Linked DNA regions of Homo sapiens. The protein of the gene in region 1 purifies or fractionates together with the protein of each later gene. This does not show direct contact. Each region holds a gene or a part of one and is shown on either strand. Other genes may lie near its edges.

Region 1 (3,820 bases):
CAGAGTTTTTGGCGCTGGTCCCCTGTAGCAGGCAGCTGGCGTCTGAAATAGAGAATGAACCAGCTTTCGTGTCTTGCTGACTGAAGCCCACGGTTTGGTCATAGAACTGACCAGAGTAATTCTGCAGATTAGAGCACAGCGGATGGGGCTGCCCTTTCATCTCCATCTTGATACCATTCACCCTGCAGGTCTGACTTGTGTCACTGAGCTGTCCTGACTGCAGAGCAAGGCTGTCCCTCGGCATAGCCTGGCGCCTGCTGCCCCCAAAGCTGGCACATGGCTGGTAGCCCCTGACAACTGCCAAGCTTGACGGCTGGCTGCCCATGCCGTGAGCCCCTGGCAGGCAGCTCTCTGGCCCTTGGTAGATGTTGATGTGTGAGGTAGCACTAATCTGCCCAAGCATCTGCTGACCGGGGCGGCCTGCCCCCGGGTGCTGCATGCTGTCGCCGAGGAGCTGGTGAGCCAGGTACCCCTGTCCCACTGGGTCCTGGTTCTGCATGCCATTCACCATGCTGCCAGCTGACTCATTTGGCGCTACCGGCAGGCCGAAATTCAGCTGGCCCCCGCTCCCTTGCATGGGGGTGCTCTTCAGCTTTGAGGCTTGAATCCCGGCACCACAGGCACCGTCGAGTGCACCAGGGGCCACTGGCTGCCTGTTGAGACAGTTCCCATACTGCGGGGCCTTACAGGGCTGTTCATGGAAGGCGTTTCCACTGGTGCCACTTCCGGGGCTGTTGTGGAGCATCAAGTGCTCTGGGCCACCGTAGGGGTTGCTGTTCTCCCCGAGGGTCTGATAGCCCCCAGCAGGCCCGCTCCTCAAGGGGTTCTGCGGGTGGACGACCATGCCGTTGCAGAACCCAAAGGCGCGAGTCTGCGGCACAGCGGGCCGCGGCCCACACTTGAGCTTGGAGGAGGACAGGTCGGCGCTTCCGGAGCTGACTTCGTTCCACTGAATGGGCAGGTCGGTTTTGCTGCCCTCGGGGCAGGGCTGCTCGAGGGCATGGAACTGCTGGCCAGCGTGGCTGTCTGGCAGCCCGGGCGCGTCAAAGTCACCGGGCCCGTGGGGCACTTTGCTGTCGTCCGGGAGGGCGCTGGGGAAGTGCTGCTCGTACCCTGCTTGGTTCTGGGAATTTAAATACTGCACCACGTCGTCCGGCAGGAAATCCTCATCGTTCAGGTTGGCATCAGCGTCCATGGTCAGGGACTCCAGGGTGACGTTCTCGGTGATGCTGGGAGGACAGGGGGACGAGTGGAAGTTTCGGGACTGGCCGCCCTCGGGCCGCGTGTAATTCTGAAGCACGAGACTGCGCTTCTCCGCGGACGTGGCCATCGCCGGGGGGTTGCAGCTGCTGAGGCTGCTGAAGCGCGGCACACGAGGCAGGGCCAGGCCCTCGGAGCCTGTCCGCACCGGGTCGCTGGCCCTCCTCACGCCGTGGCCCGGCGCATCGTGCGGCTGCAGGTGGCGCCGCCCGTAGCCGTGGGCTCCCCCGTCGCTGCACCTCCTCGGGGCATGAACTGGAGGCAGGGCCACGCCAGGCTCGAGGGCATCCCCGAGCAGCGCCAGGCGCGTCTTCAGGCTCATCCTCTCCATGTTGGGCAGGGGCGTCGGCGGCGGCCCTCCTGTGGCAGCCGCGTACTTGGCCTTGAGGCGGTACTGCTGGGCGGGCGTGAGGCTGAGCAGGCTGGGCAGGCCGTCGCTCTGGCTGGCTTCGCTGGAGCGGCGCGAGGCGTCGGTGGAGATGGGGTCGTAGGAGTCGGCCACGCTCACGTTCTGCGGCCGGCCCTCGGCCTGTGACGCCTCGCTGGAGCGGCGGCTGGAGAAGCAGGGCGAGATCCCTGAGGAGCGGCGGCTGCTCAGGTAGGCCGAGCTGATGGTGCTGGCGCTGCTGTCCCTTCTGTTGAGCATGTTCAGCATAGTGACGTCCACCCCAGAGAGGTCGCTTCTGCCCGGGAGAAGCGTCATGGGCCCACCCAAGCTGCAGGTGTTGTTGGACTGTGTGCCTGGAGACAGAGAAAGGGAGAGACCATGCGGAGATGAATTCCCTTCGAGCATGACTTACACCAGGCATGAGCAACCCTTTTCTGTAAAGGGCCAGCTAGGAACTATTTCTGGTGTCCCAGGCCACATTGCCTGCCTCACAACTACTCAGCTCTGCAGTGTAGCCCCAACACGGCCACAGAGAGCAGTGAGCAAGCAAGCGTGGCGGGGTGTCCATGAAGCTTCCTTTACAAAAACAGGGGCGGCTGGAGATGGCCGCAGGCTGTAGTTTGCTGATGCCTGGCTTAAACAAAACAATAACAACTCCCTCGATTCACTGAAGCCCCTCCCCAAGCGCTGTGCAAGGACAAAAAGAATCTTGTGATGGTACACAACGCTTGAGTTCCAGGCAAGTCCCCAGGCAAAGGTACTCCACGAGTTTCACATTCACGCTCAGGGCGTCCTGTTCATGCCACATCCTACCAACAGGTAACACCTGTGTTGGTGCAGGCAAGAGCTTCACCCCTTAGGTGCTCTCAGAAGTGTAATCTCAGAAGTGCAAACTGACCTGGGGACTGACAGTGGGGAGGGATTTCTGACTTTCCTTGAACTGGGTAAATATAAATAAAAGTGGCTGCTAACCTCGTGGTTTTAAATTTTGGAAACCAGAGACAGAGTTCCAACCACAGATGCCTCCACTGCTGGCATTCCCTTACCCTAATCTAACAGTTATGATTTCACCATCAGAATATGAGTCATGCACAGTCACATTTTTTTCTCAATATTATCCTGTTCCTAGCTGTTTTTAAAATATGGACAATCCCAAAAGGCAACTTGAATGGGCTAAACATTAACGGATGGTTACAGCGTCATTTTAGGACTGGTGGAGAAACTAGCAAACATAAAACTGAGGGCCTGCATTTAAAAGAACAGAAAAAAAAACCCTGAGCAGATGCATGGTCTGATGTAGAACTCACCATTTCCTATGAGAGGAGAGACCGCAGGGGCTTTAGGGGGTAGAATGGGGTTCAGTCGCGGAAACATTCCATTCACTTGTTTTAGCCTTTCTAGTTTTACGTGCTCCATCCATTTGGTCCCTGCCGGGTTTCTCCTGGCTTGCAAAGCAAGGGCTGTGGTTGCAGTGGAAATGGTTGAGTCCATGATTGGGGTTTCATCGATGGCACTGAGGTCTCCTATACTACCTCCATCGGTCAGAGGAAGCTCGAGCCCACTGTTGGAATAGTTGCTGATGGGGGACTGTTGGCTGCTGCATGAAGACTGACCACCAGGGCTTGGCTGAGATGTCTGTTGGGGTCAAGTGGAAAGGAAAGAAATGTCACCAGGGAGGGTCAAGGAAAGGGAGCCAATAATGAGAGCTCATGCATATCGAGATCTTCAAGATCATCAGTTGGTTGAATGAGAAGAAAAACTATGTTCTGGTGAATGGAGCTGGCCACTTTTGGCCAGAATGACGGATGGACCACCAGGCTGATGGGCAACAGGAGGCAATGGAAAGCAGAGAATGCTAGCTGCAGTGTGACTGGCATGGTATCAGCCATGGAATCCTGCCCCAATCGCCAACTCTGCAGACATACTTCCTCGGTTCCAATCCCATCTCCACCACTTTATTCTTTGGGCACATTACTTAGCCACTCTAAACCTCAGTTTCCTTATCTATAAAACAGGGACCATTTATTTCAGGGATTGTTGTGAGGAATTAAGTGTGAAGCCCAGAGAGCACACAAGTATAAAAAGACCTGGATAATAGCAATTGGTTCACAGGATGTTAGCAATTATTATGATCCCGGGTGGTTTTAGTCTTGAGGTTCATTTTGCTCAGCT
Region 2 (3,820 bases), on another chromosome or scaffold:
CCCAAAGCCATACAGATAGTCCAGTAACTCCTGGTCCAGGGGCCCTAATTACCCTAAATGTTGATGTTTTTCATCCTGAGTCTTGATTTTAACAGTTTGCCTAGTACTTTTAATGACAAAGTAAAAGTAAAATAAAACTGTCTTATGCATGCCAGCTATTATTATATTATCATTTACCATGTCTTGTGTAATATTAATAACTTAATATTCTACTACTTAATATTTCAAAAACTTAGAAACACTGACATTTCTACCCATCCTATACAATATTATTAGCATTTGGATTTTGGTACATAGTAGAGATCTAAGTTTTGGATGCCAACCCATGTTGGTCACTTCAGGGAATAGTTGTACATTTTTATTGTCAATTTTTATGTGTAAAGTACAAAATTAAATCTTTTATTAGGTCTGATATAAATGAAGTCTTTGACCCAAGTGAATGTTTACTTTTTTCAGTGCTGAATTCATAACTCTCAATGATTGCCTTCAGTTGGCATACCTGCCTTCAAAAAGGAATCACATGTTGTTGCTCTATCCTCGAGAGATTTTAATCCTTGACCTTGAGGTGAATCAGACGGTGGGTGTGATTGCAATAGAACGCACAGGAGTTCCATTTTTACAGGTATCTACAATTCATAAATTATATTCCCCAAAATTATTAAGAATGTTATATTAAAAGAAGGCCATAATCTTGCATAAGTCTTGTCTTCAGTTCTCCACTTTCTCTTTTCAATTTATCAAAAGACTAGCAACACTATTTTAGATTGTTTTTTTTGTCTGCACTTTTGATTGGTTTGATTTACCCTAGAAATTGTGACTGATCCTGAGATATTTATTGAACTATTTAAGTCACATGGGTAAAGACAAATTATTTTAGGATTATAAATGGATATTTTAAATGTACATTTAGTTTTAAAGTTTGGGATTTGTCTATTTTTTTTTCTTTTGCCCATATTATCTAAATATGAGTTTGAGTTTCACAGTATATACTTTATTAATCTATTGTGTTTTAAAAAATAAATATATCATCTATTTAAAGGTAATACCCTGCTTTCAGCGTGATGGTTTATTTTGTCTACATGAAAATGGTTGTATAACTTTACGTGTTCGAAGATCTTATAATAACATTTTTACCACTTCAAATGAGGAACCAGGTGAGTTTCTGTCTCACAATAATGTTATATTTTTCTTCAAAATTATTTTATAAAGCTTGATGTGGCAAATACCAGCCAAGGTATATAGTTAATGATACTCCTTGCTTTGAGGAAGTTTAAAATATGGTTATAATAAGAGGCATAAAAAGTATAAGCCCAAGATTAATCTCTTGATGTTAAAACAGTGCACCTCCTGTATACATCAAAGAGAGTAAAATTTTGTGTTTCTTGATCATATCCATGAGCCAAGTAGATATTATTTTTTGGAATTTTTTTTTTTTTTCAGTACAAGTCCAACCTTGTGTGCCTTTATTATTATACCCCCTTGACTTGTTGGCTGTAAGAACTTCCATTGTAAAGTGACAGAGGTTATTAAGTCTCAGTTGTCAAGTCAGTCTTATCTTGGAGAATGGAAATAATGTTTTTGTGAAATTATATACTGTGTAAAGATCAAAGTGATTTTCACATCTTTTGGAAAGTACAGTTATTTTCAGGCTTATAGACTACTACAAATTATGATGGAAATTTATTCATTAATTATATATCACTGTTGATCCTTTTTCAAAGTATCGTCTTTATTTTAAAATATTGAAAAAAGATATCTTGATTATAGTTGTTATTTTGGAAATTAAACTTAGTACAGTCATTAAGTAAATTATATTTGGAAAAAATTTAGTAGTAATTGTAAAAAGTGAAGCCATGCTTGACATTGCATTCATGAAGGAGTGATGCCCAAATTTAGTTGAGGTTTTATTTAAATTGAAACAAACAGTAGTGGTATCGATATGGCTGCTTTCTGATATTTAAAACAATTTTATGTGAAGATCCAGATCCAGTTCAGGAGCTTACCTATGATTTACGAAGCCAGTGTGATGCAATCAGGGTGACAAAAACCGTCCGTCCCTTCAGTATGGTGTGCTGTCCTGTCAATGAGAATGCAGCCGCCCTCGTAGTGAGTGATGGCAGGGTCATGATATGGGAACTCAAGTCTGCAGTTTGTAATCGAAATTCACGGAACAGGTAAATGAATCAACAGGATCATGGTTTTGTTTTTTGTTTCCTGTTTCCTTTTATAAAAAATTTCCATAATCATAAAAATAGGAGGGCTGGTTTTCTATAAAAATATTTTTAAGGTAATAATTAAGGCTTTAGATTATTAGGGAATTATGTAAATCTGCTAGAGCTATTTCACCTATGGGTAAGATGAATGAATAATATAAAAATAGATAGAATGCCATAATCTGGACTTAATACTTTGAATTCCTAATACGTAATGCAGATTTTAAGTATGTAAAACCTTCTAATTATTATGTCTTTGCAGTAGTTCTGGTGTGTCACCTTTATATTCACCAGTGTCTTTCTGTGGAATTCCTGTAGGAGTGCTACAGAATAAACTCCCAGACCTTTCCTTAGATAACATGATTGGTAAGCTTTTTTCCCCTCTAACTCCATGTTAAGTATTCTTTCTGAAGGGCAAAATTAATAGAATCACTCACTTGTAATTATTTTAAAGTCAAAAAAGTTAATACTTGAGAAAACTAGAACATGGAATCATTCTTTCCTAAATAAATCAGAGGGGTTTAAAATACTTAGGTAGAAAAGTGCCTGAAGTAGCACGGGTTTGCATTATAGTTGTTAGAAATAGAAAACGTTCATTCGTGAGAGACTGATGTAAATGAAAGCAATGACATTAGGCATCTGGATTTTGGACCTAGAGCCGATGCTGAGCTATGCCATGCCAACTCAGGGCCTTGCTGTTTGCTGGTTCCTCAGCTTGGAATGAAGTACATGCTTCCTTTCTGTCTGCTACTCCTAATTCAAAATTCAACTCAGATGTTGTTTTCTTTAATCTCCCAAGTCTAATTTAAATGCTCTTCTTTTGTTTTTCCTAACAGTTATCAGCATATTTTAATTGTGGGTTTTTTTCTTCTGTTTCATCTCATCAATTGTAAGCATCACAAGGGTGGTACAGTGTTTGATTCTATTTTGTCTTTCCCAGCACTCAGCACAGTACCTTGTGCATGCCTGTTTTGTAGTAAATATTTACTGAAGGAATAAAGTAACTGAGCAGTATTAGAAAAGATTATTTTAACTTTTTGACATGAATTATTTTTATGTTGGGGATTCTTTCAAAAAATCATTTTTGGAGATAAAGTGTTCAAAGTTATTTAATTATGAGGCCAGTATGTATTAAAGGAAGAATGAGAGTTTGTGATTTCAAATTTTATGCTACTTGAAATTATAAGGCTTTGTAAATATGCCAAGCAATTTGGACATCTAATTTTTTTACAGTTGTGGCTATGGTTTATAAAGGATTTTCTGTTTTATTATTTATTCTACCATAATATAATTGAAAACGATATTATTTAGGAGGGTTTTTTTGTTGTTGTTGAAACGCTAAATAAGTGATGCACTAGAAAGAGCATTGGCCAGGCGCAGTGACTCACGCCTGTAATCCCAACACTTTTGGAGGCCGAGGCGGGAGGATCACTTGAGGTCAGGAGTTCGAGACCAGCCTGGCCAACATAGTGAAACCCTGTCTCTACTAAAAATATAAGAATTAGCCAGGTGCAGTGGCATGTGCTTGTGGTCCCAGCTACTTAGGGGGCTGAGGCAGGAGAATCGCTTGAACCTGGGAGGCGGTGGAGGTTGCAGTGAGCCGAGAT

The links.
Region 2: the proteins of GLI3 (region 1) and WDR11 purify together in Homo sapiens (co-immunoprecipitation; one study listed by IntAct). This does not show direct contact.

The regions. Positions count from the first base shown.
Region 1 is NC_000007.14:41,964,641-41,968,460, forward strand, and holds part of GLI3 (transcriptional activator GLI3), read right to left. Parts: intron 3,284-3,820; coding exon 2,956-3,283; intron 2,002-2,955; coding exon 1-2,001. UniProt on the Homo sapiens protein: Has a dual function as a transcriptional activator and a repressor of the sonic hedgehog (Shh) pathway, and plays a role in limb development.
Region 2 is NC_000010.11:120,864,591-120,868,410, forward strand, and holds part of WDR11 (WD repeat-containing protein 11), read left to right. Parts: intron 1-456; coding exon 457-622; intron 623-1,039; coding exon 1,040-1,154; intron 1,155-1,978; coding exon 1,979-2,174; intron 2,175-2,475; coding exon 2,476-2,579; intron 2,580-3,820. UniProt on the Homo sapiens protein: Involved in the Hedgehog (Hh) signaling pathway, is essential for normal ciliogenesis.